Homo sapiens: one gene and its partners. The protein of the gene in region 7 purifies or fractionates together with the protein of the main gene of each other region. This does not show direct contact. Each region holds a gene or a part of one and is shown on either strand. Other genes may lie near its edges.

Region 1 (4,277 bases), on a different chromosome or scaffold from region 7:
AATCTAAAATTATCAGCTGGTTCTTACAGCAGCCCTGAAAAGTAGATATTTGAAATGATTTAGCTTTTTGTTTTGCCTCCCTAACTTTCTTGTACTTTCTTCTTGATTAGGCCTTGGCACTGGTGCCCCTGTCATTGAGTCACCTTATGGAGAGACCATCAGTCCTGAGGATGCCCCTGAGTCCATTAGCAAAGCAGTTGCCAGCCTTCCACCAGAGCAGATGTTTGAGCTGATGAAACAAATGAAGGTGGGAGGAGGCATTAGGTTATGAATAAAGCAAATCACATCAGGTTTTCAAGGAGTTACTTGAATTAGTTCCCTGAGCTCAAATAGAAATTGTCTGTAGACCACCATTTCTTGCACCTTCAATATTCTGTATGTACACAGTATATTTTACATTTTGTACAAAGAGCTTTCTATTTTTGTACACAAACACAGCTATCCAAACAATCCAGCTGGAGTTTTGTGGCCCATAGATGTCAGATGTAGATATTAAAATTTGGCTTTTTTCCTAAATGATAATATCACAGTATTTGAAATGCCTCTTTCTTCTCTTGCCTGCCATGACCAAGGTTTTTTTGTGCCATGCAAAAACTAATGATAAAGAGCCTCTTGAATATTACATTTCTCAGAGGGGAATGGCTCTAAATCACTATCAGTTTCTAAGTCATAAGTATTAAACCTGAATCTGCTTATCTTCTCAGCTCTGTGTCCAGAATAGTCCCCAGGAGGCACGGAACATGTTACTTCAGAACCCTCAACTGGCTTATGCTTTGCTGCAAGCACAGGTAGTGATGAGAATTGTGGATCCGGAAATTGCCCTGGTGAGTGCTTCTGGTTCTTTTATGGAAATGGTCGGGTAAACCTTGAATGGGATAGGAACTACCTGATTGCTTTGTTAAACAGACAGCTCATAGGTTTGTCTTTTCACTTTTTAGAAAATTCTGCATCGCCAGACAAATATCCCAACGCTGATTGCAGGCAACCCTCAGCCAGTCCATGGTGCTGGGCCTGGCTCAGGATCCAATGTGTCAATGAACCAGCAGAATCCTCAGGCCCCTCAGGCCCAGTCTTTGGTAGGGCTTTATCCCTTAACATTTTTTTGTATCTGTCTTAGAATGTCATTTTCTTTTTAGGAGAATATATTGAAAGAAGAATGGTCAGGAACCAGAGATGATAATTTCAATTTCCAGGCATAAAAGCAATTTCCAGGTTGCAGAGCACATGACATCTGAATGAATATAGATTCGATTCCAAGTTTGTAAAACAAAGAGATCCTTCCCGTATGCCCTTTTCTTATAAGCTAACTTTGTGTGTATGTGCATGCCTGGCACTGTGGTTGGCACTTCGTTATTCCATATGCATTATCTCATTTAATCCTCAAAGCAATTGTATGAGGTTGGCACTCTTATTATCTCCATTCTTACTGATGAAAAAAGTAAAGCTTGCTTTCAAAGCATGACACAAAACCTTAAAGCCATAAAAAATTGATACATTTGAAAACTAAAAAATTTCTATATAAAGAAAAAAATAAGTATCAAAGACATGACAAATTGAGAAAAAGTATTTACCACACATGTGATGGAAAACAGACTAATAAAGAGCCCATAGTCATTCACAAGAATGTTTATTGCCTTAGAGTGAAAAATTGGAAATGTCCTAAATGTACGTCAGTGGAAGAATGGAGAAAATGTGTGGTACATTCATCCAGTGAAATACTGTACAACAGTTAAATAAACTACACGTATCAACATGAATGACTTTGAAAAACATAATTCCATACAGCAGTTAAGATGAACTAGGATACATAATATCAACACAACTCCAAAACAGTGACATACGGACATGAAACTAAGTGAATATGGATGCATTCCCGAAATGTAGGATATATGTTTCTGCATAAATCCCCAAAATATGTGGAATGAGTTGCAAAATAATATATTGAGTATGTAATGATTCATATAAAATTTTGAAACATTAAGAAGACGTCTTAGTGGTCATCAAAGGAGAAGAGAGCACAGGATGCAATTGGGGAAGACCGTACAGGCCATTGGTTTATTTTATTTACTTATTTATTTCCTAAGCTGGGTGGCTATTTTATTTTCTATATGATTTGTATATCTGTAATTTTTCATAATAAATTTTAAAAGGCCTCCTATAAATTAGTAAGAAAATTTCCAATAACCCAGTAGAAAAATGGGAAATAGACATAAATATTTCACAAAAGGAGAAATATAAATATATAAAAATTTATTCAACTTCAAAATAAGATAATGTAATAAATTATCATTTATATATGTAATGTTATAAGATAATGTAAATAGAAACTACAATAAGCTACCATTTTTCATCTCTCAGGTTGGCAGAGGTACAGGGCAGGGACCAGCAAACATTTTTCTGTAAATGATCAGACAGTAAATATTTTTGGCTTTGCAAGTCACAGGATCTGCCACAGCTACTCTGCCATGGTAGTATGAAATCAGCCATAGGCAATAAGTGAACAAGTGTGTGTGGTTGTGTTCCGTTAAAAGTTTGTTTATAAAACCAGGCAGTGAGCCCGATTTGGCCCATGGGTCATAGTTTGCCAACCCCTGCTCTAAATAAATAAATACATTTTCAGAGATAGAAAAAAAAAGCTAAGGCCCAGAGAGGTTAGCTGGTCCAAAAATTGACACAATTATAAGTGGCAGATCTATTTCTGAACCTGGTTTTATCTGACCTCACAGCCAGTTTTCTCTTAACTACTTTCCTATACAGCTCTTCCTTTTCTTTTGTAGAGTTTTGTGTTCCTTAAACGTATATGTGATTTTTTTTATATAACTTGGCTTTTATTCTTTATTTATTGAGCTGTTTCTAATTCAAGGGACTACTCAGTTTTTTGGGGAATGCACAGATGAAAAGATGACATTCTCTTTTTCTCAACGAGTTTTAATGTAGCATTTAAAAAAATATATTTCACATTCCCCCAAAACCAGAATTATATCTAAGGACAGGAGTGAGAAAAGATTGGTTAAATTAAAAAAAAAATTTAATTTTAAAAATGTGGACTACCAGCAGTTGTTTTTTTTAAAAGAGTCCCAGTCTCCTTTTATGTTTCTTGGGTTTAGGGCTTTTTTTTTTTTTTTTTTTTACTCTTATTGGCAGCCCCAATCATGAAGTTAACAGTAGGTGTTATGTGCTGCCTTGCCACACAGATAAGACTTGTCAATCTCTACATTGAGAATATGTTCCATCTTAACCGTGTTCCATATAACCAGGCTCATGACGTATATTGCTTCTGTGGAGTTTAAAGTGTGTGACAAATCTAATGCTGCATAAGACATGCCATACAAAAAGGATGTTTAGTAGTGTATTTGGGGCTGTTCATTTGAAGAGGACTTTTAAGGTCGTAGACTTAGTATATTGAGTATCCACAGAGGCATATACATACTCTGTTTTTTTTGCTTGGTCAGGGTGGAATGCATGTCAATGGCGCACCTCCTCTGATGCAAGCTTCTATGCAGGGTGGAGTTCCAGCACCAGGGCAAATGCCAGCTGCTGTCACAGGACCTGGCCCTGGTTCCTTAGCTCCTGGAGGTAAGTTTCATTTAGTCTTCACCATTTCAGTACTTGCTAAAGTTTTGTCATAGCCACTGTTGCAGTGCAGCCAAATATGATAATGGGATCCTTAGGTAAAATTAATACACAGCTAGAAAGTATATATCTTAGGTGGAGGAAATAGTAGATTTCTTACGTTAAATCCTGTATGTCTAATTATAAGAACAGGGAAAGGGACAGTAAAGTGAAAGAGCATAGTAAAACTTCCAAGTTAACAAGGGGGAAAATGGAATGAGTGGAAACAAAATCAAGCCAGCAAAAATAGAGAAGAGGAAAAAAGTAAGAGACAGTGTAAAATAAGTAATAATAAATGTAGAGTAAGATGGAAGGAATAAAAACTAATGTAGTTGTTACTCTGCTAAATATGAATGAACTGTCAGATTAGGTTCAAAAGCTCATGAAGAAAACAGACAAAAAAATACAAGGTCACATTTGTTATAGCATATTAAACTGACATAAAATTGTATTTTAACAAACATAATCAGAACAAACAACAAAAGGGAAAAAGAGAAATTTAAAAGCTATGTACATTTATTGAAAATGTATAGATCGGCAATTAATAAGAGTATTGCTCATATACTTGTAACTGTTCCTTGTTCAACAATTGTAACTAAGAAGATTGAGTGAAATAATGATTCCCCATATGAAACATCTGTATGAACACATGATGTATTACCAAT
Region 2 (4,277 bases), on a different chromosome or scaffold from region 7:
GGCAGGGGGTCTGCTGTCCCACGGCAGAGGGCACATGGGCCTTGAGCGGCCATCCAGCCCAGCCCCAGACCCCGCAGTGCTTACCTTCTGAATGAACTCAAGCCCTTGCACCGACAGAAAGCCGGGGTAGGGGGCGTCCATGTTGACGATGCAGTCAAACACCTCTTCCTCTGTGTCCCCTGGGAACGGGCACTGTGGAGATGGGGGCTCAGCAGGATGCACGGGCCACCCCACCCCCACCCAGAGGCCCAGGAAACAGGCTCCAGCACTCACCTCACCCACCAGCATCTCGTAGAGCAGCACACCCAGCCCCCACCAGTCCACAGCCCGTGTGTATGCCTCCTGGGTCAGCACCTCGGGAGCCAGGAACTCCGGGGTGCCACAGAAGGTGCTAGTCCGGTCCCCGAAGCCGATCCCTGCAAACCAACAGGCACACCAATAGCTGCTTGGTGTGGCCTATTCACAATAACTTCAATAGCCAAGCCTTATGATGCCAGGGAGCTGAGCCTGTGCCAAGCCCTGCCCTGTACCCAAGGAAGTGGGAATGGTTATGACGCCATTTGACTGCATGCAGAGCCAAGCTCACAGGCTAAGGTCACAGAAGGCAGAACTCGGCTGGGTGCGGTGGCTCACACCTGTAATCCCAGCACTTTGGGAGGCCGAGGTGGGCAGATCATGAGGTCAGGAGTTCGAGACCAGCCTGGCCAACATGGTGAAACCCCGTCTCTACTAAAAATACAAAAAATAAGCTGGGTGTGGTGGCATGTGCCTGTAATCGCAGGTACTCGGGAGGCTGAGGCAGGAGAATCTCTTGAACCTTGGAGGCAGAGGTTGCAGTGAGCCGAGATTGCGCCATTGCACTCCAGCCTGGGCAACAGGGCAAGACTCCATCTCAAAAAAAAAAGAAGCCGGGCGCAGTGGCTCACGCCTGTAATCCCAGCACTTTGGGCGGCCAAGGTGGGTGGATCATGAGGTCAGGAGATCGAGACCATCCTCGCTAACACAGTGAAACCCCGTCTCTACTAAAAAAATACAAAAATTAGCCAGGTGTGGTGGTGCTCGCTTGTAGTCCCAGCTACTTGGGCTGCTGAGGCAAGAGAATCGCTTGAACCCAGTAGGTGGAGGCTGCAGTGAGCCGAGACTGCACCACTGCATTGCATCCTGGGCGGCACAGCAAGACTCCGTCTCAAAAAAAAAAACAAACCAAAAAAAAAACAGAAGGCAGAACTCAGTCTCCTCTCCCATCCCTGACCACAGGCTCTCCCTTGGGCCAGGTGCAGGCTGGGGCTACGAGCCTCTAGGACTAGGAAGAAAGGGCCAGTGTGCCCAGCTGTCCCCTGGAATGAGGTCTGGGGTGGTGGAACCAGGGCATCCGCAGGTGAGGAGATTTCCTGGGACATGCCATGTGCCCATCATCCTATTGGCCAGGGTGGGTAAACAAGGCTGGAGATATGGATCCCAATGGGCGGCCCCCACCTTCCTTGCAGAGTCCAAAGTCTGCGATCTTCAGGAATCCCTGGGCATCCAGCAGAAGGTTATCCAACTTCAGGTCCCTGAGGGCAAGGGTGCAGATCAAAGGGACTGAGTGGGGCTTAGACCCAGGGAACAGTAACGGCCCCTGGAGCAGCCCAGGCAGGCGGAGGCAGCATCTGTCCTTACCCACTCCACCCCCACCCCCACCCCTACCCCCGTGCATCCCTGGGACAAAAGTCACCTGTAAATGATCTTCTTCTCGTGTAAGAACTGCAGCCCCAGGACAACACAAGCCACGTAGAAGCTGCAGGGGTGGTTATGGGAGAACTCAGGCCCAAGACACACACCAGGGAGGCAGGGCAGGGAGGCACCAGGATGGCCATAGCGGGGGGATCCCGGATGTCCCGGCCAGAGTCAGAGATGAGTGAGACTGGGACAAGCATCATGCTGAGGGTGGGGGTGCTCCAATAGTCCCAAGGTCGCCCCAAGGTTGCGTGCATTTCCAGCTCACCCTTCATGGGCCCTTAAATGGTGCCAGGGACCAAGTGTTGGTCCCTGCAGTGGATATTCATCATGCCTATTTTTTTTTTTTTTGAGACGGAGTCTCACTCTGTCACCCAGGCTGCAGTGCAGCGGTGCGATCTCGGCTCACTGCAACCTCCACCTCCTGGGTTCAAGCAATTCTCCTGCCTCAGCCTCCCAAGTAGCTGAGACTACAGGCACGCGCCACCACGCCCAGCTAATTTTTTTTTTTTTTTTTTTTTTTTAGTTTTTATAGAGATAGGGTTTCACCATGTTGGCCAGGATGGTCTTGATCTCTTGACCTCATGATCCACACGCCTCAGCCTCCCAAAGTGTGGGGATTACAGGCATGAACCAACGTGCCCGGCCTTTTTTTTTTTTTTTTTAGATGGAGTCTCACTCTGTCGCCAGACCGAAGTGGCGGGATCTCGGCTCACTCCAACCTCCGCCTCCTGGGTTCAAGCGATTCTCCTGCCTTAGCCTCTCAAGTAGCTAGGATTACAGGCGTGTGCCACCATGCCTAGCTAATTTTTGTATTTTTAGTAGAGACAAGATTTTACCATGTTGGCCAGGTCACGAACTCCTGACCTCAGGTGATCCACCCGCCTCAGCCTCCAAAGTGCTGGGATTACAGGTGCCCGGCCAATCATGCCTATTTTTCAAATAAAGATCTGAGACTCACCAGGTGTGGTGGCTCACGCCTGTAATCTCAGCACTTTGGAAGGCCGAGGTGGGCGGATCACTTGAGGTCAGGAGTTAGAGACCAACCTGACCAACATGGAGAAACCTCGTCTCTACTAAAAATACAAAATTAGACAGGAGTGGTGGTGCATGCCTGTAATCCCAGCTACTCAGGAGGCTGAGGCAGGAGAATGGCTTGAACCAGGGAGGCGGAGGTTGTGGTGAGCCGAGATCATGCCATTGCACTCCAGCCTGGGCAATAAGAGCCAGACTCTGTCTCACAAAAAAAAAAAAAAAAAAAAAAAAAAGAAACCTAATGCACAGCTTCATAAGCTGATACCCAGGATCACAAATGCTGTCAGTTGGTGCCAGGATGTAAACCAAGGCCTCTGACTCCTGCTCCCCTGCTGTTGGGCACTTGGAGAAAGCAGTATGTAGAGAGTGGGTGTAGGGAACCAGGCAAAGTTTGCTGGAAGAGGCAGGCAGGAGGGATGGAACCCACCGGGCCTGGGGCTCGGGGAAGACATCCTCGTGGATCTGCATCATGAGGTCACCACCAGGCACAAACTCAGTCACAAAGCAGGCATGGCTGGAGGTCTGGAAGCAGGCAAGGAGGGAGAGCAGGAAAGGGTGCCCTGTGCAGCCCACAGCCTCCAGGATCCGCTTCTCGCAGTACAGGCTACAGGAGAGAGCAAGAGTATTAGAGGGAAGGAAAACTTTCCCTGGGCTGTGCCCTGTGCCCTGCACAACACCCCTGGCTCACTGGGCCCTCAGCCAAAGTGCCAGGCAAGTAGACTGATGGTTTCTTTTCATTTTTTTTTTTTTTTTGAGACACAGTCTTGCTCTGTCGCCTGGGCTGGAGTGCTGTGGTGTGATCTCAGCTCATTGCAACCTCTGCCTCCCGGGTTCAAGAGATTTTTGTGCCTCAGCCTCCCGAGTAGCTGGGATTATAGGAGTGCGCCACCACGCCCAGCTAATTTTTGTATTTTTAGTAGACGCAGGGTTTCGCTGTGTTGCCCAGGCTGGTCTCGAACTCTTGGCCTCAAGTTATCCACCTGCTTCGGCCTTCCAGAATGCTGGGATTACAAGTGTGAGCCAGTGCGCCCAGCCTTTTTTTTTTTTTTTTTTGAGACAGGGTCTCACTTTCTTGCCCAGGCTGGAGTGATGTGGTGCGATCTCGGCTCACTGCAGCCTCCGCCACTGAGGTTCAAGTGATCCTCCCACCACAGCTTCACGAGTAGCTGGGTGTGCACCACCACGCCCAGCTAATTTTTGTATTTTTTGTAGAGGCGGGTTTCACCATGTTGTCCAGGCTGGCCTCGAACTCCTGGGCTCAAGCAATCCTCCCACCTTGGCCTCCTGAAGTGCTGGGATTACAGGCATGAGCCACTGTGCCCAGCCTCCCCCTCCTTTTTTTTTTTTTAATTAGTTTTTTTAGATGAGGTCTCATTCTGTTGCCCAGGCTGGAGATCTCTGCTAACTATAACCTCTACCTCCTGGGCTTAAGCAATCCTCTCACCTCACCCTCCCAAGTAGCTGGGACTAAAGGCACATGCCACCATGTCTGGCTATTTTTTATAGATGGGGTTTCACCATGTGAT
Region 3 (4,277 bases), on a different chromosome or scaffold from region 7:
AAGCGGTCATCCAGCCCAACCTCTTCATTTTAGAAATTAAAAAACAGAAGGCCCACAGATGAAATTACTTGCCCCAGGTCAGTTCACCAGGTAGTGGCAGAGACAGGATTAGAAAACAAGTCCTTGGCTCTTTCCAGAAAATAATTTTGCTTTCTTGGTGAAAGACCTAAAAGCAGGCATAAACATGAGGTATGTGGTACTTACCGATGCTCTCCAATCATCTACAAAGTACTCAAATAAGGGCAGTATAACTTAGTACACAACAGTACAAGCTCTGGAGTGGCCTTGCCTGTTATCTCAGCCATCACCCCTGATAAGGTCATCTAACCTCTGTGCCAGTTTCATCACTGGTAAAAAAAGAACAACAGTACTTACTCCAGAAGGTTGGTATATGCATGGAAAGTGCTTAGAACAGTGACTAGCATATAGTAAGGACTTAAATGTTATCTCTGTGTGTGTGCTACCTAGAATAAACTCATATTTACAAACTTCTTACATATAACAACAAAAATATGTTTAATCAACACGTTAAATTACAATTTTCCTTGCCTCCCTGGATTTTACAAGAACAGTTGGAAGATGATTTAAATATAGTTATATATGTTTGCAAAGCAGGGGGACACCTAGGAAATTCACAGATGGGTGTCCGGACTCAAGAGACCTTTAAAATTACGTGTAAAATTTGGCTAGGCACGGTGGCTCACACCTGTAATACTAGCACTTTGAGAGACCAAGGTGGGTGAATCACTTGAGGCCACGAGTTTGAGACCAGCCTGGCCAACATGGTGAAACCCCATCTCTACTAAAAATACAAAAATTAGCCGAGTGTGGTAGCGCACACCTATAACCCCAGCTACTCAAGAGGCTGAGGCAGGAAAATCGCTAGAACCCGGGAGGCAGAGTCTTCTGTGAGCCCAGATTGCACCACTACACTCCAGCCTGGGTGACAAAGCGAGACTGGGTCTCAAAAAAAAAAAAAAATTATGTATAAAATCCCATATTAAAAAAAATCCCATATATATGTATTTGTGTATCATATATGTTTCTCAGAAGTAGGTCCAGGTCCTTAGCAGATTCTCAAAAGGGATGGAAGCACTGCTTTGAGAGAATAAAACTGGAACTAATGCCTCTGAGGTATCAGGCAGATTCACAATGCTCCCAATGTTTCTTTCTTGTCTATCGCCCTATCCTGCCATGGTTCCCAGTATTTAAGGGCATCACTAAGGATTCAAGTTCTGAGATTTAAGGAACAGAAGCCCCTTGAGTGTGACCCTTTTATTTATTATTTTGGAAGATCTCACTCTAGCCCTGAGCATTCTAAGATGACAAAGCAGAGAAACAATGTAAATTCTTCCACTGGATTAGGGAAAAAAAATAGATCTTCCTCAAATTAGTGTAGAGACTTGTCCTCAACGTGAAAGTTACTATACAACTTAATAAGCAATTTCCTTTGTCTACCAGAAATTCTAAAACCTCTTTACCCCAACTATAACAGTTAAGAATTAAGAAAGAACCCTTTCGGCCAGAACTGCCATCTTGCAGTAATTCATCAAAATGACAAACACAAAGGGAAAGAGGAGAGGCACCCAATATATGTTCTCTAGACCTTTTAGAAAACATGGAGTTGTTCCTTTGGCCACATATATGTGAATCTATAAGAAAGGTGATATCGTAGACATCAAGGGAATGGGTACTGTTCAAAAAGGAATGCCCCTCAAGTGTTACCATGGCTAAACTGGAAGCGTCTACAGTTTAGCATGCTGCTGGCATTGTTGTAAACAAACAAGGGCAAGATTCTTGCCAAGAGAATTAGTGTGCGTATTGAGCACATTAAGCACTCTAAGAGCCGAGAAAGCTTCATGAAACGGGTGAAGAAAGATGATTAGAAAAAGACAGAAGCAAAAGAGAAAGGTACCTGGGTTCAACTGAAGCGCCAGCCTGCTCCACCCAGAGAAGCACACTTGGTGAGAACCAATGGGAAGCAGCCTGAGCTGCTGGAACCTATTCCCTATGAATTCATGGCGTGACAGGTGTTTAAAAAATGAAAGACCTCTGGACTGTAAAAATGTTTCTCTTCATTGAGTAGAAGTGTGGTGTTCTCTCCCCCAAAGAAATATTTAAGGCAAATTTTAATTATGTCCTAGTTCATTATGTAATGTCTTTACTCTTCAAATTTAATGTATTTCTTGCTGAAAGACGTGAGGTAGCTTATTGTGCAACAAACTCCTCGATTGTTTAGAAAATGGCCAGGTATTACGTATGAAATATTTGTACTGGTTTGAAGATAGTCCCTTGAAATGATCAAGGAAGAAATAAAGTAATTTACAAAAATAAAAAATAAAAATAAAAAGAATGAAGGAAGTTCTTTTATGGAAAAGATTTTATATCAGACATGTCCTCTAATATTCTGCTCTGATCATTGCTCAGATTGCTTTTATGAACCTCTGACCTCAAGTCTCTAAACACTATGGGGACAGGATCTGTGTCTGTCTTGCTTACTGCCACATCCACAGCCCCAGCTTGGTGCCTGGTACATTAGGTTATCAATAAGTGTGTGCTGAATAAAAAACTCTAGGCCGGGCGCAGTGGCTAGCGCCTGTAATCCTAGCACTTTGGGAGGCCGAGGCAGGTGGATCACCTGAGGTCAAGAGTTTGAGACCAGCCTGGCCAACATGGTAAAACGCTGTCTCTATTAAAAATACAAAAATTAGCCGGGTGTGGTGATGTGCACCTGTAATCCCAGCTACTCGGGAGGCTGAGGTAGGAGAATCACTTGAACCCGGGAGGTGGAAGTTGCAGCGAGCCAATATCACACCACTGCACTCTAGCCTGGGTGACAGAGTGGGACTGCATCTCAAAAAAAACAAAAAACAAAAAACAGTGTGTATATAAAAAACCATTTTCTCAACACAGACAAAGCAGAAAAAACAGAATAAATAAATTAAAATAACTATAAAATGTGTTTTATAAATCTAAAACTCAAGCCAACTCATCCAGCAAACCCAAACTATGCATTATTTCTGTCAGCTTTCATGACTGGGACCTACCTGAAAATAGTGGCTGCATGTTGAACAATTCAGCATCATATACTTCCATTTGGCCAGAGGTCTTGTTCAAAATTCCCACAAAGTGCCTGAATAAAGAAGAAATAATACAAATAACAATGGATTATTCAAAAGCATTATTTGTACAGCTTTCTTTTTTTTTTTTTTGAGACAGAGTCTTGCTGTCACCCAGGCTGGAGTGGAGTGGCATGATCTCGGCTCACTGCAACCTCCACCTCCCGGGTTCAAGCAATTCTCCTGTCTCAGCCTGCTGAGTAGCTGGGATTACAGGCGCACGCCACCATCCCCGGCTAATTTTTGCATTTTTAATAAAGATGGGTTTCACCATGTTGTCCAGGCTGGTCTCGAACTCCTGACCTCAGGTGATCTGACCCTATCAGCCTCCCAAAGTGCTGGGATTACAGGCGTGAGCCACTGCACCTGGCCCTGTTTCCTGTTCAAAAGTTCTCAACCTTCTCTCTGCCCACACACCTGAGGAATGCATCATCTACTCATGGGTAACAATAATCTCCCCTACCCCTACCCCACAGCAATTCTCTGCATAGAGAGGGAATAGGAAAGGATAGGATGGGATGGGAGGATATGAGGTGGTTCTGGGAAAAAAAAAAAAGCTACTAGGTGATTCTGATAGTTGATCACATTTGGGCTCACTGCGGTAGTGTAATGGAAAACTCTTTTGGGGTGTACGAACCTAGAATTACACTACAATTTATGGCACAACAGTTTTATGGAGGCAAAATCAAGTAAACGGGGAGGAGACCAATTGGAACTAGGGCATCTCTGAGAGGGGAGAGTGCAGGGTTAATAGTTCTCAGCACCTATACACCCATCTGACCTCTCCTCTATTGGAGTATGGTCCACCGGGGCTCAGAAAGGGCCTAGTTTGTAGTTCATTGTTGGGTACCATCACAGGGCCCTGTCTGCATCATGCCAGCCCCCGAGAGTGATACAGTTCAGGCTGGACAATCTTCACTGTACAGAGGGGGAGGCTGGGGGTCAGTGATGCGCAGAGTTACCCAGCCACTCAGTCAATCAGCAGCACAGCTGGATGGGAATCCCAGGCTCCTCTTTCCCAGTCCAGAGCCTTCAACACTACCAAGTTCTTTACCTGTCGTTAGTTCCCAGGTAAACTTCACGCAAGCTTTGACCTACTAGTCACACATTCCAAATTAATGGAGAGACCTGCCTTTTGGAATAAGACAGCTATAAATA
Region 4 (4,277 bases), on a different chromosome or scaffold from region 7:
CCCTATCTTTACAATTTGTTAAATACATTTATTTCTCTATCTCCACATCCTTAATTCAAGCTACCATTACCCACTACCTGAACTAATTTCAGTAGTTCCTCCGGACTCCTTACTCTTGCCATACAAATCCATTATCTGCACTGCAGCCCAAGCATCCTTTGAAAAATGCAGTCTTGATTCTTTAAAAAAATCAGTCAAAAATGACCCTGTCATTCATTTATGCAAACACCCTTCAATGGCTTAATTTTACTTAGTGGTCATTCATATTCTTACTCCTGGTTATCTCTATAGTTGTATCTTTTTTTTTTTTTTTTTTGACAGGGAGTCTCTGTTGTCACCCAGGCTGGAGTGCAATGGTGCAATCTTGGCTTACTGCAACCTCCGCCTCTCGGGTCCAAGCAATTCTACTGACTCAGTAGCTGGGATTACAGGCACATGCCACCATGCCCAGCTAATTTTTGTATTTTTAGTAGAGACGGGGTTTCACTATGTTGGCCAGGCTGGTCTTGGGCTCCCGACCTCAGGTGATCTGCCTACCTCAGCCTCCCAAAGTGCTGGGATTATATAGGTGTGAGCCACCACACCTGGCCTATAGTTGTATCTTGAATGCTTCCCCCCTTCACACTCTCACACCAGCCATTATGAAATTTTTTTGTTCTCCTTCAGGCCTCTACATATGCCAAGTTGCCTCTGCCACAATCATTCTTCCTAAATTTTAGCCTGTCCCCTTTATGTTCTTTAGGACTTAGCTGGAGTGCCTTTACTGATGTAAGCTGGACTAGGTACTCATCCTTTGTAATTTCATAGTACTTTATTCCCCCAGTTCCCATCGCATTATCAAGCTATGTAAGAAAAAAAAGCAATGTGCTGCTCACTAGTGTCTAGCAAAAAACTTGATATTTAGTAGGCACTGGGTAGTTGAATGAATGAACAGGAGCCTGCATAGTCCAAGGAATTATTTGCCTGTGGCATTAAGCAACCAACCTTCCTGGATCCTAGTCCATGCTGTGGGATTTGGTTATCTTTTCCTGCCCCATTCCCACCCATTGATTCTTTTAAGTATCCCAGTTGGGTCACTGTCACTCTCCATAGTTTTTAGGTGCTCCCTATTGCGTCTAGGTTAAACCATCCCTTTGCCTTTCCATAATGTGGCCTCCAGTGCCCTGCCCTCTAGAGCTGTTTCCTGAGCCTCATGTAGCCAAACAAGCAAGCGTCTCATTCATGCCTTGCACTCTCCTAGCTGTGATTTTTTTTTTTTTTTTGAGACAGTCTTGCTTTTTCACCTAAGCCGGAGTGCAGTGGCGTGATCTCAGCTCACTGCAACCTCCGTCTCCTGGGTTCAAGTGATTCTCCTGCCTCAGCCTCCCGAGTAGCTGGGACTACAGGCATGTGCCACCCAGCCCAGCTAATTTCTGTATTTTTAGTAGAGACAGGGTTTCACCATGTTGGCCAGGCTGGTCTGGAACTCCTGGCCTCAAGTGATCTGCCCACCTTGGCCTCCCAAAGTGCTGGGATTACAGGCGTGAGCCACCGCTCCCGGCTAGCTGGGACTCTTGACTATGTCTTCTCCCTCTATCCAAAACTTCCTTCCTTCAAGGCCAGTTTCTTCAGAAAACTACTCAGAACCCAGAAATCCAGAGAACTGCTACTGTCTGTGCCTGTCATTCAGCTAGTAGCCACATGCTGCCTCACCATATTGTATCTTCTCAATTTTGTGACTCTGCCCTGACTGGTGCTTCTTGTGGGCATAACCCAAAACAGCAGACCTCAGTTTGCTGGTTACCTAAGGAAAAAGCAAGACATGGATGAGTAGTTAAGACAAATGGGTTTAAATAAGCTGAGCCAAAGCCCAAGAGATTTGCTAGTAACCAAAAGTATTTGGAGTTGTATTTGAATATATTACCCCTGCTGACACTCCCACATGGTTCTGACTTAATCTCTTTCTTGCCATAGGCCTGGGCTCTAACATCTTCCGCCTGCTAGACAGCCTGCGGGCCCTGTCAGGCCAGGCTGGATGTCGCCTCCGTGCCCTGCATCTCAGTGACCTGTTCTCACCACTGCCCATCCTGGAGCTGACACGTGCTATCGTGCGAGCACTGCCCCTGCTACGGGTCCTCTCTATTCGTGTTGACCACCCAAGCCAGCGGGACAACCCTGGTGTGCCAGGGAATGCAGGGCCCCCTAGCCACATAATAGGCGATGAGGAGATACCAGGTGAAGCACTGTGTGTGTGTTTGTGTGTGTGCACGCACGTGTATCCCCACACAAAGGTGCAGATGCATTCGTATGGGGAAAGGGGAAGGACCTCTTCTATCACTCATTCCTGGCTTATCTGGAACCTATCCCCCCTTTAGAGCCTACCACTAAGATACTCTTGAGCTAGACAGGGCCTAAACCACCATAAGACCAGCAGAGAGTGACCAAGGCAGCTTGGTCTCCAGAAAAGGAAAAGAACTGATCTTTAGACTGGATTAGTTCCCCTGCTGTATGTTCCCTTAGTTCTTGTATGTCTCCTATCCCACCACTCTGCATACTTTATTTGCTTGTGTCTGGGTAGCCTGTCTTCCTGGTCTAAAATTTCTACAAGGGCAAGGACTAAATCTCATATTTAGTGCTCAATTCCTAGAATCTAGCACAGTGCTGACATATGGTAGGCACTCAACGACAAGTGAATGAATAAATAATTTTTTAGATGAATCCCTTAAGAACAGGATGGGACCTGCTATGGGAGTGAGGTAGAGATGGCCAGCTGGAATCTTCTTTCCCCACCATATCCAGAAAACTGCCTGGAGCAGTTGGAGATGGGATTTCCACGGGGAGCCCAGCCAGCCCCACTGCTGTGCTCCGTTCTGAAGGCCTCGGGTTCTCTGCAGCAGCTGTCCCTGGATAGTGCCACCTTTGCCTCTCCCCAGGATTTTGGGCTTGTTTTGCAAACACTCAAAGGTAGGACCCAGCCAGAATGGTGAAGGGAGAGGAGTAGGTGGGGACCTAGCACTGTTCTCTAGGAAAGCTAAGGTCCATGGTCCATGGTCTCTGCCTCCTATCCAGAGTACAACCTAGCCCTGAAAAGACTGAGCTTCCATGACATGAATCTCGCTGACTGTCAGAGCGAGGTGCTCTTTTTGCTACAGAATCTGACTCTGCAAGGTAAGTTCCTTATTCAGAACCTGGACATTTCCTGGGTCTTCACTATGGTTCTGCCATAATCTGAGTGAGCAAACCACTGTTCCTTTCTTGGCCTTGTGTCCTCAGCTATAAAATGGATATAGAACCTGCATGATTTTCCTTCTAAAAGCCCCAACCTCAATTCCTCCTCTACTAAACATGAGAAATCGCTCTTTTAGAGTGCTTCACCCAAAAGTTGCTCTTACCTTTCAGAGGTGGACAAAATGGTGGTGGTGGGGCAAAATAAATGTACTGTGCCAGGCTCCCCTCATAGACTTTTCTCTGATCCCCACCCCCGCATAGAGGGTGGCCAGTGTTAGGGAAAGAAGGAAGTGAATGGAGAATTGTCCATGCAGAGAACCTTCTTATAGGGAACATTTAGGTTCAGTCTTTAGTTTGGATTCTGATTTAGTTCCAGCCTTGCTTGGAGTCTAGACAAATTCCTTCCTCTTTTTGGGCCTCTATAATGTTAATACCCCTTGCTAGGGCCAACTGGGGCAGGAGGGGCAGCACCAGTCCTAATGCAGCCATCAGAATTTACTATAATTTTTCTTGACAGAGATTACCTTCTCCTTCTGCCGTCTGTTTGAGAAGCGCCCAGCCCAATTTCTGCCTGAGATGGTTGCTGCTATGAAGGGCAACTCCACACTGAAGGGCCTCCGGCTGCCAGGGAACCGCCTGGGTGGGGGCCAGACCCTGGGGAGGGAGAGGGGAAAGGAGCTAGGCCTTTGACCTAAAAACTCACTGGATAAAGGCAAAGACCTCTCCACTGGGAACGTGGGAGTTGGAATACAGATATTTCTGTGCTGGGGCTTCAGGAACCAGCAGGGCTGGTTCTGCCAGCCATAGTTGGGTTGGGATACCCTTGTCCCCTGTTCTTGGGTGGAGGTGATAGGCGTTCTCCCCTTCTCTCCAGGGAATGCTGGCCTGCTGGCCTTGGCAGATGTTTTCTCAGAGGATTCATCCTCCTCTCTCTGTCAGCTGGACATCAGGTACATGAGGGGAGGGGCAAGACAAGGGATGGGGCTACAGAGATATAGACCAGGAATTCACTGCTTCCTGGATATCTAATCCATCTCACCCTACCAGTTCCAACTGCATCAAGCCAGATG
Region 5 (4,277 bases), on a different chromosome or scaffold from region 7:
CAGGTACTTCTGCTGGGTTCTGTTAGGATGGTTAAGTTTGATCACTTGGTTTAGGGTGATCTCATTGTTAAGGGTCATGTTCCCCTTTGCAGTTAATAATCTGTGAGTTGATAACCGTTTTCTTTAAAATCACCTTATACCTAGTTATCAATTGATAAATCTTGACTAAATCAGCTCTTACATTGGAAGTAGCAAATGGTGGTTTTGTTTTGTTTTTAAAACCCACAATTCTGTTGGTCTGTGTCTGTTTACTGGCTCATACTTTCTGCAAAAAAGACTTTTTTTCTTCCTAAAGATTAAGTATCGCTATGGATTCATGGATTTCTCTTAGTGTGTTAGTATCAGTGATAGCCATTTTTCTTTTGCACACTCAACTTGTCCAAACCTTTTTGGTGGTTCTTATATCTTTTCCTTAAGTCTGAAAGGCAATTTAGACATCTGATTATCAACAAGGAAGTCATCTTCATATAGCCTTTTCTTTAACTTTTTAATAATACATTTCAAACATGTAAGAAAAACAGTATAATATATGAAGTACCTGTCATAGAGCTTCAATTTATGGCTAATCTTGTTTCCTCCATGACTTCATTTGCTTCTCTCACCCCCATTACTTCGAAGCAAATCCTAGATACTGTATTCAGCTTCAACTAAAATAACCATTAAATAACACCTTAAGGATGGAAAATATGAATGAGCTGTACCTTGCTTGATATTTAAGACAATATTGAAAATCTGGAGGAAAAGAGAGTATCCAAAATAACCTGAAATCATGGATGAGAAAAATAAACTCAATGAGACTAAAGAATAATAAGAAAAAAATTAAAACCATTGAATCATGGATTTGCTTTGGAAAAATGCCAAGGGATGGGGTGGACAAAGAGTCCTACAAGATGCAGGTGTAGATTTAGCCTTTTAGTAGCATTGAAGTTCAAGTTTGTAGAATAAACCTGATACTATCTTAAATTTATTACTAAAATATATGGATAGTCATTTTTCTCTTGGTGCTAAGATTTGTGATTTGTGCCCCCTAACAGAGGGAAATTATTGCAGACAAGCAAAATCACTGCTAAAGGTTTATTGCTGTGATTTTTTTTTCAACTCTAGTAGGGAAGTTCAATTTTGCATGTAGAGAGCTATTGGAATTACCTTATAGTGTTCAAGGATCTCTTCTGAAGCTCCTTGCTTATTGTTTTTGCCAGTTTAATGGTGAAAAAACTATTTGCATATAGGTTTACCCCCCTAACAAACATATGATTTCTGTGTGGAATTATGGCTGTATTATTTATTTCATGGTTTTGTTTTTTTGTGTTTGTTTTTTGTTTTTTTGAGATGGAGTCTTGCTCTGTTGCCCAGGCTGGAGTGCAGTGGCACGGTCTCGGCTCACTGCAACCTCCGCCTCCCAGGTTCAAGCAATTCTCCTGCCTCAGCCTCTTGAGTAGCTGGGATTACAAGCACACGCCACAATGCCCGGCTAATTTTTTTGTATTTTTAGTAGAAATGGTGTTTCACCATGTTGACCAGGCTGGTCTTGAACTCCTGACCTCAAGTGATCTGCCTGCCTCAGCCTCCCAAAGTGCTGGGATTACAGGCGTGAGCCACTGCGCCCAGCCTGTGGTGTTTGTTTTTTTTAATGCCTGATTCAACTTTTGATCTCATTCTTAGGTCTATTTAACCTTGTGCACTACTCTTAAGGCATTTAATATGCTGTTATTTAGACATTTTCCATTGGGTTTTGAACTTCTTTAGTTGAAGAGATGATGTTATTCATCTTTATGTCTTAAAGACCTAAGAAATAATATTTTGATGCTTAAAGGTATTCAGTAAATGAATGGATTAAGTTTGCATCTTTTAAAAAAAATTATTTATTTACTATTTAGGTAGAGACGAGGTCTCACTGTGTTTCCCAGGCTGGTCTTGAACTCCTGGACTTAAGTGATCCTCCTGCCTCAGCCTTCCAAACTGTTGGATTACAGGTGTGAGTCCAGCCATATTTCACCTTTTAAATAATGTATAACTTATCCTAGAATTTGGAAGGCCTAAAATACAAGCCAAATGATCCTCAGCTTGGAAAAGCTACATGATTCTAAGAAGCGCAAATTAATTGCTGGTAGTTCTTAACAAAGGAGCATTTAGGCTCATAAATACGTGTTTTTAGTGAAAAATAATTTTGGGAAGATTTAGAAAATAATGAAGAGTATGTGTCCTATTATATACTTATTATTAATAAGGAAAGAAAAAGTTGAAACACCCACAGCATTGAAACCTGAAACCTGGTTTATTTCGTTAGGTAAACATTAGTACTTAAGCTGTTTAGAAGTAACAGTATCGCCAATTTTAGTCAAGGTGCATATATGTGTAGGGGTTAGAAGAGGCAGAGAAAGAGCCAACTATGTGTGTTGGACAATGTGTTTTTTTGGATTTATTTTTTCCAAAATCTTTCTGTAACAGCCCTTCCTAGTTTTCTGCCTCCTATTTTTAGTGATGCTTGTTTGGTGTAACAGTTTTGGGCAGGCAAATTGATTTGATCTTTATTGTTGATATTTCTTAGGAAACTGGAGCATTATCAAATATTCTGTTTGGGGACAGTTGTTCCTAAGAGAAGTTGCTCTGTGCTTAAAGAATGAGAATTGGGTTTTTCTTAGAGATACAGCAGAAAGGTACTGTGTTAGGTGATACTGCATTCCTTCAACATTATTTCAGGGAATGTAGGCATTTACATCCCAGATAGACCTTCAGAAGGGCAAAATCTGTATTTGGGTGTTTTTACCTATTGGACAATTACCCATACCAATTCATGATTTTAAGCTTTTTTTTTTAAATCTTCGATTTGGTGACGGTGATTTTAAGCTTTTCTACCATGTCTCTGAATCTTTCTCTTTAGATAGGACCTACCTGTGAATTTGAGTCTTTTTGTTTTGTTTTGTTGGACAGTTGGTAATGGTGTGAGAATTGGGCTAAAAAAGGGATTTGAGTTGGCAGTTGTTTAAACTATCTTTAGATTAATGGACAACTTAGGATACATAGTAAATATTGAATAAAATCAGAAGGGCAAAGCTTCTGTGTGTCCTAATTAATGTTTTTCTAATGTTTGACTTAGTTTATTTAGTGTATTAAATCTGGATTATTCATATTTGAAAGAAGTCTCATCTTTTAAGTTCCAAACGGTTAAGATTTTAATTTATATTTTGTAGCTATTTGTTTCCTAGGGGATGAATATGCAAGTTTACTAAGCAGATAATGGTAAATATAATTATTTGAACTAATATGTTAAGCCAAGATCTTTTTTTTTTTTTTAATTTTTTTATTTTTATTTTTTCGAGACAGAGTCTTGCACTTTCGCCCAGGCTGGAGCACAGTGGCGCAATCACGGCTCGCTGCAAGCTCCGCTTCCTGGGTTCACGCTATTCTCCTACCTCAGCCTCCCTAGTAGCGGGGACTATAGGTGCCCGCCACCACGCCCTCACGCCCAGCTAATTTTTTATATTTTTAATAGAGATGGGGTTTCACTGTGTTAGCCAGGATGGTCTTGATCTCCTGACCTCATGATCCGCCCGCCTTGGCCTTCCAAAGCGCTGGGATTACAGGTGTGAGCCACCATGCCCGGCCCAAGATCTTTTTTTTTTTAAGTTTTTGAGTTGTTTGTATGTTTAGATTTTTAATCTATGGATGATTTGGAGGGATTAGTTTTGTATTGTAGGATACATGTTCAGTTTCATTCACAACAAACATGAAGTAGGGTTTGGTTGCATTGGTAAAGGAACACAGAACTAAGCTGACATCTGGTCCTAATATCCGGTCTCATTGTGACACCTGTCACATATAGTTCTTTATTATCTGGGCATATGAATGGAATCAGTTAGGTTACTCCTCTATGAAAGTCTCAGCACGGCACCGTGGCTCACGCCTGTCTGTAATCCCAGCACTTCGGGAGGCTGAGGCTGGCGGATCACTTGGTCAGGAGTTTGAGACCAGCCTGGCTAGTATGGTGAAACTCCGTCTCTACTAAAAATACAAAAATTAGCTGAGTGTGGTGGTGCATACCTGTAATCCCAGCTACTTGGGAGGCTGAGGCAGGATAATCACTTGAACCCGGGAGTCGGAGGTTGCAGTGAGCCAAGGTACAGCCACTGCACTCCAGCCTAGGTGACAGAGTGAGACTTCATCTCAAAAAAAAAAAAAAAAAAAAAAAGAAAGTCTTACGGAGTGCTACTCCGGTCTACTTTTAATTTTGAAAAAAAGTTAACCACAGAGAGAGACTTAAGACTTCAAATATATAG
Region 6 (4,277 bases), on a different chromosome or scaffold from region 7:
TAATCTCAGCACTTGGGGAGGCTGAAGCAGGCAGATCACGTCAGGAGATCGAGACCATCCTGGCTAACACGGTGAAACCTCATCTCTACTAAAAATACAAAAACATTAGCCGGGCATGGTGTCGGGCGCCTGTAGTCCCAGCTACGCACTCAGGAGGCAGAGGCAGGAGAATGGCGTGAACCTGCGAGGCGGAGCTTGCAGTGAGCTGAGATCGCACCACTGCACTCCAGTCTGGGTAACAAACAGAGCGAGACTCTGTCTCAAAAAATAAAAATAAAAAGTAGATGCCTAATACTGGAGGCATCAGAAGAACCAAGAAGGAAGAAATCTGAAACGTACTCTCCCTTCCCATGTAATAACATACAAAGTTACTTTACCTTTCTGCAGATTTGGAACGGGAACGAGAGCGAGAACGGCTGCCTCCTCGACGTCTATCCCTTGAACGATGCCGCTTTCTATCTTTAGATGGGGAAGACTTCCGGTCCCGGTCTCTATCCCGCTCTCTGTCAGGAGTCCGTGATCGCTTCCTTTCCTCCTTGGAAGGTGATGCATCACGGTCCTTTTTGTCAGCCAGCTCTCCTGCCATCTGTAATGAGTAGGAAGAGTACTTACAATGTACTAGGCACTGCTCTAAACTGCTTATATATAATTCAATTACCCTCAAAACAACCCTATGAGGTGGATATATTAGTATGTCTACCGTACAGATGAGAACGGTGGAGCTCAGGTATATAAAGGAACTTGTCTGAGGGCAGACAGGTAGTGGCAGAGTTGCAGGCAGTCTGGCTCCACAGGCCATCGTTACTCACTATATTGTCTCCCTGTAATTCCTTTCAGAGTCTCACTCTGTCACCCAGGCTGGAGTGCAGTGGTGCAATCATAGGTCACTGCAGCTTCAACTTCCTGGGCTCAAGCCATCCTCCTGCCTTGCCTAGCTAATTTATTTTTTTTATAGACAGGGTCTCACTATGCTGCCCAGGCTGGTCTTAAATTCCTGACCTCAAGCAATCCTCCTGCCTCAGCCTCTAAAAGGCTGAGATTACAGGCGTGAGCCACAGTGCCTGGTCGATTCCTTTTTATATATTCATTTCTAAATATGTACAGTGAATATACCATGTTTTTGTAATTAGACTACAAAAGAGTATTAAAAGAAGTGTTAGTGTATGAACAGTGTACCAACTATTTCTAGAAACATCCTATATTGCTTACTTTGAAGTTTATTAGGTCTGCCAACCCACTAGGATCAGTTAGCACTCATACGTCTGAGAGAGATAAATTTTCTTGAGCTCATAAAGAAAGCTCAATGGAGAAAAAAGTTTAACTTTGAGATCTGGATTACGTTATAATTAGCACCACAAGGAAAACCTGAATTTAAGTGGAGAAACACACTTTTACTCAGATTAAAAGAAATGTACCTCTAATTATGCAATGGGAAGAACTTGGTGAAGGGTACACAGAACCTCTATACACATTTTTTAACTTCCTGTGAAACTATAATTATTTCAAAGATATATATTTTAAATACCCAAAACTAGAGGTTGCAGAAGTCCTGATTGACATTCCCTATTCAGATTTTCACAACCTTGGTCATCTGCATAACCCAGTTTTGTGAAAGGTTTCAGCAGGAATTTTTTCTGTCTCCCTCCTACCTGGGAGACACCGAACACCACTCCCACACTGTCAACTCTTCTTTGGGCTATGAACTCTAGTTCAGCCAGGAGCTAAAACTGCAGCAAGCCTGAATCTGCAACCACCTCATCATCATCCCAAAGACTTGGGATACATTTCTCGCAACTTATTTTATCCCCAAATGGTTCAGCTCGAATGGTTCCTTAAGCTTTAGCTTACAAGCCCCTTTCTCATGCCATTCCCTGCCATATATCCTTAAGAAAGATTGTATAAAGATGAGAAAAGAAAAATGAACAAGAAGCACTTTCAAAAGGTGAGGACAACCCATTTTATCTCACAATCACCTGAGAAATGACTGATTGTTCTGTATCAGTACATCATGGCTATCACACAGAAATACCTATGTCTTGGGCTGGGCATGGTGGCTCACCGTGTAATCCTAGCACTTTTGGAGGCCAAAGCGGGCAGATCATGAGGTCAGGAGATTGAGACCATCCTGGCCAACACGGTGAAACCCCATCTCTACTAAAAATACAAAAATTAGCCAGGCATGGTGGCACGTGCCTGTAGTCCCAGCTACTCAGGAGGCTGACGCAGGAGAATCACTTGAACCCAGGAGGCGGAGGTTGCAGTGAGCCAAGATCATACCACTGCACTCCAGCCTGGCAGCAGAGCGTGATCCGTTTCAAAAAAAAAAAAAAAGAAAGAAATACCTATGTCTTGACTGGGTGTGGTGGCTCATGCCTGTAATCTCAGCACTTTGGGAGGCTGAGGTGGGTGGATCGCTTGTCCAGGAGTTCGAGACCAACCTGGGCAATATGGCAAAAACCCATCTCTACTAAAAATATAAAAAATTAGCCACGCATGGTGGTACACGCTACCCAGGAGGCTGAGGTGGAAGGACTGCTTGAGCCCGGGAGGCAGAGGCTGCAGTAAGCCGAGATTGTGCCACTGCACCCCAGTCTGGGTGACAGGGCAAAACCCTGTCACACACCAAAAAATAAAAAATAAAAAAAACACTTACAGCCCTAAGAAAACAATCCCAAAGGAAGGCTATTTTCTCTGTACAGCATCCTGGATTTCATTCATTCTTTCAACAAATATTCACCGAGCACCTACAAGGTGCCAGAAATTGTTGTAGGTAACGGAGACAAAGCAGTAAAGAAAACAAAGTCTCATGCTGGGCGTGGTGGCTCACGCCTATAATCCCAGCACTTTGGGAGGCTGAGGCGGGCAGATCAAGAGGTCAGGAGATCAAGACCATCCTGGCTAACAGGGTGAAACCCCGTCTCCACTAAAAATACAAAAAAATTAGCCGGGCGTGGTGGTGGGCGCCTGTAGTCCCACCTACTCGGGAGGCTGAGGCAGGAGAATGGCGTGAACCCGGGAGGCAGAGCTTGCAGTGAGCCGAGATCATGCCACTGCACTCCAGCCTGGGTGACAGAGTGAGACTCCGTCTCAAAAACAAAACAAAACAAAAAACAAAAAAAAAAAGAAAACAAAGTCTCCTACTTCATAAAGCTTAAATTCTAGTGTAGCGGAAAGGATTTTAAATAGTAATGAATGCTAATGAAGAAAATAAAACAGTGATATGATGGGTAGGGGTATAACAAGAGATAGATGGCTCAGGGAAGAAGTTTTAGTTGACATTTAAGCTGAGACTTGAATGATGGGAAAGAGGGCCATGAAAAGATCAGGGTAAAAAACCCTTGTTAGATACAAGAAATGTGAACTAGCTTAGCATGTTTGTCAGGTTTGTTTTGTTGTTGTTGTTGTTGAGACAGGGTCTCACCCTCTCACGCAAGATGGAGGGCAGTGGCACAATCACGGCACACTGCAGCCTTGACTTCCCAGGCTCAAGCGATCCTCCTGCCTAGGCCTCCCAAGTAGCTGGGACTATAGGCGCATGCCACCACACCTGACTAATTTTTTTTTTTTTTTTTTGAGATGGAGTCTTGCTCTGTCGCCCAGGCTGGAGTGCAATGGCATGATCTTGGCTCACTACAACCTCCACCTCCCAGGTTCAAGTGATTCTCCTGCCTCAGCCTCCTGAGTAGTTGGGATTACAGGCGCGTGCCACACCACGCCTGGCTAATTTTTGTATTTTTAGTAGAGGCGGGGTTTCACCATGTTGGCCAGGCTGGTCTCAAACTCCTGACCTCAGGTGATCCGCCCTGAGTGCCCAAAGTGCTGGGATAACAAGCATGAGCCACCATGCCCGGCCCCAACTAATTCTTAAAATTTTTATTAGAGACAAGGTCTCAATTTGTTGCCCAGGCTAGTCTTGAACTCCTGGGCTCAAGGGATCCTTCGGCCTCAGCCTCCCAAAGTGCTGGTATTACAGGTGTGAGCCCAACTACACGTTTGTCAGTTAAAAACATATTTGTTTGGCCAGGCCTGGTGGCTCATGCCTGTAGTACCAGCACCTTGGGAGGCCAAGGCGGGAGGATCACTTAAGCCCAGGAGTTCGAGACCAGCCAGGGTAATATAGCAAGACTTCCCGTCTATTTTGAACAATAAAATTTTACATTTATAAACAGTTAAAAATCAGCCGGAGGCCAGGAGCAGTGGCTCACGCCTGTAATCCCAGCACTTTGGGAGGCTGAGATAGGCAGATCATGAGGTCAGGAGTTCGAGACCAGCCTGGC
Region 7 (3,251 bases):
TGTTCTTCTAGACTCTTCTTAGTCTGTAAGCGATGAATTAACTTTAAACTAAGTATTTCTTTTTATTTTATTTTATTTTATTTCTATTTTTGGGAGATAGAGTCTTGCTCCATTGCCCAGACTGGAATACAGTGGCATGATCTTGGCTCATTGCAGCCTTGACTCCCAGGCTCGAGCAATCCGCCTCAGCCTCCCAAGTAGCTGGGATCACAGGCTCGCAACACCATGCCCAGCTAATTTTATTTTTCTGGAGAGACAGGGACTTCCTATGTTGCCCAGGCTGGTCTCAAATTCCTGGGCTCAAGGGATCCTCCTGCCTTGGCTTCCCAAAATGCTGGAATTACAGATGTGAGCCCTTGCCCCATGAAACGGTTTAACAAAGTAAGGTGGCCTGCTAGTTTAGAAGGCTTTTATGCTAACATTTCTGTTCCTTCCTTTCTTTCCCCAAAATTCTACACTGACCTTTTTTTTTTTTTTTTTTTTTTTTTGAGACGGAGTCTCACTCTGTCGCCCAGGCTGGAGTGCAGTGGCACAATCTCAGCTCACTGCAACCTCCACCTCTCGGGTTCAAGCGATTCTCCTGCCTCAACCTCCCGAGCAAGTGGGACTATAGGCGCATGCCCACCACACCCAGCTAATTTTTGTATTTTTAGTAGGGACAGGGTTTCACCATATTGGCCAGGCTGGTCACGAACTCCTGACCTCATGAGCCACCTGCCTTGGTCTCCCAAAGTGCTGGGATTAGAGGTGTGAACCCCCGTGCCCGGCCCACTAAAGCAGCAGTTTAGTGGCTTTAAAAAAAAATGATAGACTTTAAATGATGACTTTGTTTATAGAAGTTGTCATACATCTTCAAAACAGTATTCTCTGTGTTGTCATTTTGATTTTAAAGAGCATTCCTCATACAAAACCAGCCAACAGTGCAGGCACAGTGATTACCATGGCCGTTGAAAAGGCCAGAGATTTTACTGGTTCCCACCCCTGGAGCCTCTGGTTCTCTTAACTCATTTTGCAGAGGGCTCAAGTCTGCCAGCGTTGAAGTCTGAGTATCTTAATCATTTTTAGATCCTTCACCCCTTTGGCAGTCAGGTAAGGCTGTGGGGCGGGGGCAGGGGACACACATATATGCAGTTTTACCTTTGATTTCAAGGAGGTTAGACAACCCCCTCCCCACAGGCTATCCTGGGACCCCCGGTTAAACAGCCCTATTGTAGAAGGTGGGTGTTGCTGACCAGGGACTTGACTACAATAGTTCTGTTGGCGGCCCTGTTCCCTGGGGCTCTACAAGAATAGAAAACCCGTGTGGCCCTGGACTGGCCCCGCTCTCCCACGTGCTGCAGTCGGGGTGCAGAATGGAAGTTCACATTGCTGTGGCTGGTCCTCAGGAGCCGTGGGGAGGGCAGTCTGCGGGAGGCTGCGGCCCTTCCACTGGACTTTCACTCTGGCCTTCTTCCCTGTCCTCCTGACACCACTCCTCCCGCCTCCCCTCCCTCTCCCTCACCTCCCACAAACACACCAGAACTATTCAACTCTGAGGAACAGGAGTATGAGACAGCTTCCATTCGGCCAGGAATGGGAGGTTCCCATGTCCTTAAACTTCAAAGCCAATCGTACCCTTAAAAATGCAGCTATTTCCCCAGTTGTTTAAACACTTAGGATTAGATAGGAGTAGATGTATTGGTTTCTTCAGAGAAGCCAACAGTGGATCACATGAAAATGGAACCTTTTTTCCTATCCTTTTGAATACATTTCTGTGTTTAAAATATAATTTTTTTGGCTGGGTGTGGTGACCCACACCTGTAATCCCAGCACTTTGGGAAGCCAAGGCAGGTGGATCACTTGAGGTTAGGGGTTCGAGACCAGCCTGGCCAACATGGCAAAACCCCATCCAAAATACCCCTACTAAAAATACAAAAATGAGCCAGGTGTGGTGGTGGGTGCTTGTAATCCCAACTACTCAGGAGGCTGAGGGAGGAGAATTGCTTAAACCAGGAGGCAGAGGTTGCAGTGGGCCGAGATCGGGACACTGCACTCCAGCCTGGGCAACAAGCAAGACTCCGTCTCAAAATAAATAAATAAAATAAAATATAATCTTTTCCTTTGTGCTAGGGTCCCACCTAAGTTTATTCACACATATGATGAGCAGTAACTGCCTGAAGATGCAAGGAGTTGATTCCCACTCCCCACTTCCCCCGCTTAATACAGTGTTGTCAGTGCTTAACTGTCCTAGGCTGACCATGGTCCATGGGTTGTTTAGAGTCACTGCCTGCCTTTCTTACCTGCATTCAGCCTGCTGGTGGACTGCTGTTTCCTAACACCTCTGTACCAATGGGGACGATGTTGAAATTAACCATCAAAACTGTTTCTCTCGATGACAGAGGCAATGTCTTAGTGCCTTCTTTATCCCCAGCTACTAGCACAGAAGGAATCTGCCACACAGAAGATGCTCAATAAATACCAAGTTTAATTAAAGTAGGAGTGCACAGCTAGTGGGCTTGGGAGCCATTTAAACCTAGATACCTGGATTTGAATGCCGGCTCAGCTGTTTACTAGCTGTGAGGCTTTAAGCAAATCACTTAACTTCTGTGTCTTGTTTTCTTCACATGTAAAAGGGGATCCTTACTAAAATTATAGGTTAAGATAATGTATATAAACCACCTAGCATGATGCCTGCTGAATAGATCATTCTTGAATAAAGCTGTGTATTTTCCCTGTTTTATAAACTTAATAAGCTGTATCAAGGCAAATAAGAAGCTTGTCTCAAAAGTAAATACAGGCTGGGCATGGTGACTCCTGCCTGTAATCCCAACACTTTGGGAGGCCAAGGCAGGTGGATCACTTGAGGCTAGGAGTTCAAGACCAGCCTGGCCAACATGGTGAAACCCTGACTCTACTAAAAATACAAAAATTAGCTGGCTGTGGTGGTGCACACCTGTAATCCCAGCTACTAGGGAGGCTGAGGCAGGAGAATCACTTGAATCCGGGAGGCGGAGGTTGTAGTGAGCCAAGATTGTGCCACTGCGCTCCAGCCTGGGCCACAGAGCAAGACTCCATCTCAAAAAAAAAAAGAAAAAAAGTAAATACAGTATTCTGCTTTAGAACTAGGACCTATCTTCAGTTTTATTTTTTCCTCAAATATATAAAGCCGGGCATTTTCACTAATCCTGCATTTCTGCTTATTTTCAGGGACATATTTGGAGAAGACTGTGTAAGTGTAAAGGATGACTCTATTCTTAGCGTCACAGTGGACG

The links.
Region 1: the proteins of CPSF3 (region 7) and CSTF2 purify together in Homo sapiens (affinity purification with mass spectrometry; 3 studies listed by BioGRID and IntAct, with this or other methods). This does not show direct contact.
Region 2: the proteins of CPSF3 (region 7) and PKN3 purify together in Homo sapiens (affinity purification with mass spectrometry; one large-scale study listed by BioGRID and IntAct). This does not show direct contact.
Region 3: the proteins of CPSF3 (region 7) and POLR1E fractionate together in Homo sapiens (co-fractionation; one large-scale study listed by BioGRID). This does not show direct contact.
Region 4: the proteins of CPSF3 (region 7) and LRRC41 purify together in Homo sapiens (affinity purification with mass spectrometry; one large-scale study listed by BioGRID and IntAct). This does not show direct contact.
Region 5: the proteins of CPSF3 (region 7) and CSTF3 purify together in Homo sapiens (affinity purification with mass spectrometry; one large-scale study listed by BioGRID and IntAct). This does not show direct contact.
Region 6: the proteins of CPSF3 (region 7) and DDX23 fractionate together in Homo sapiens (co-fractionation; one large-scale study listed by BioGRID). This does not show direct contact.

Annotation. Positions count from the first base shown.
Region 1 is NC_000023.11:100,823,182-100,827,458, forward strand, and holds part of CSTF2 (cleavage stimulation factor subunit 2), read left to right. Parts: intron 1-110; coding exon 111-247; intron 248-704; coding exon 705-824; intron 825-938; coding exon 939-1,076; intron 1,077-3,452; coding exon 3,453-3,576; intron 3,577-4,277. UniProt on the Homo sapiens protein: One of the multiple factors required for polyadenylation and 3'-end cleavage of mammalian pre-mRNAs. This subunit is directly involved in the binding to pre-mRNAs.
Region 2 is NC_000009.12:128,715,825-128,720,101, reverse strand, and holds part of PKN3 (serine/threonine-protein kinase N3), read right to left. Parts: intron 3,356-4,277; coding exon 3,179-3,355; intron 1,778-3,178; coding exon 1,715-1,777; intron 1,554-1,714; coding exon 1,477-1,553; intron 417-1,476; coding exon 274-416; intron 193-273; coding exon 85-192; intron 1-84.
Region 3 is NC_000009.12:37,488,171-37,492,447, reverse strand, and holds part of POLR1E (DNA-directed RNA polymerase I subunit RPA49), read right to left. Parts: intron 3,134-4,277; coding exon 3,048-3,133; intron 167-3,047; coding exon of another isoform or gene 73-166; intron 1-72. UniProt on the Homo sapiens protein: Component of RNA polymerase I (Pol I), a DNA-dependent RNA polymerase which synthesizes ribosomal RNA precursors using the four ribonucleoside triphosphates as substrates.
Region 4 is NC_000001.11:46,279,062-46,283,338, reverse strand, and holds part of LRRC41 (leucine-rich repeat-containing protein 41), read left to right. Parts: intron 1-1,953; coding exon 1,954-2,214; intron 2,215-2,778; coding exon 2,779-2,943; intron 2,944-3,048; coding exon 3,049-3,147; intron 3,148-3,724; coding exon 3,725-3,847; coding exon of another isoform or gene 3,848-3,897; exon of another isoform or gene 3,898-4,075; intron 4,076-4,081; coding exon 4,082-4,157; intron 4,158-4,254; coding exon 4,255-4,277. UniProt on the Homo sapiens protein: Probable substrate recognition component of an ECS (Elongin BC-CUL2/5-SOCS-box protein) E3 ubiquitin ligase complex which mediates the ubiquitination and subsequent proteasomal degradation of target proteins.
Region 5 is NC_000011.10:33,154,404-33,158,680, reverse strand, and holds part of CSTF3 (cleavage stimulation factor subunit 3), read left to right. Parts: intron 1-4,277. UniProt on the Homo sapiens protein: One of the multiple factors required for polyadenylation and 3'-end cleavage of mammalian pre-mRNAs.
Region 6 is NC_000012.12:48,845,197-48,849,473, forward strand, and holds part of DDX23 (probable ATP-dependent RNA helicase DDX23), read right to left. Parts: intron 587-4,277; coding exon 378-586; intron 1-377. UniProt on the Homo sapiens protein: Involved in pre-mRNA splicing and its phosphorylated form (by SRPK2) is required for spliceosomal B complex formation.
Region 7 is NC_000002.12:9,468,157-9,471,407, forward strand, and holds part of CPSF3 (cleavage and polyadenylation specificity factor subunit 3), read left to right. Parts: intron 1-3,186; coding exon 3,187-3,251. UniProt on the Homo sapiens protein: Component of the cleavage and polyadenylation specificity factor (CPSF) complex that plays a key role in pre-mRNA 3'-end formation, recognizing the AAUAAA signal sequence and interacting with poly(A) polymerase and other factors to bring about cleavage and poly(A) addition.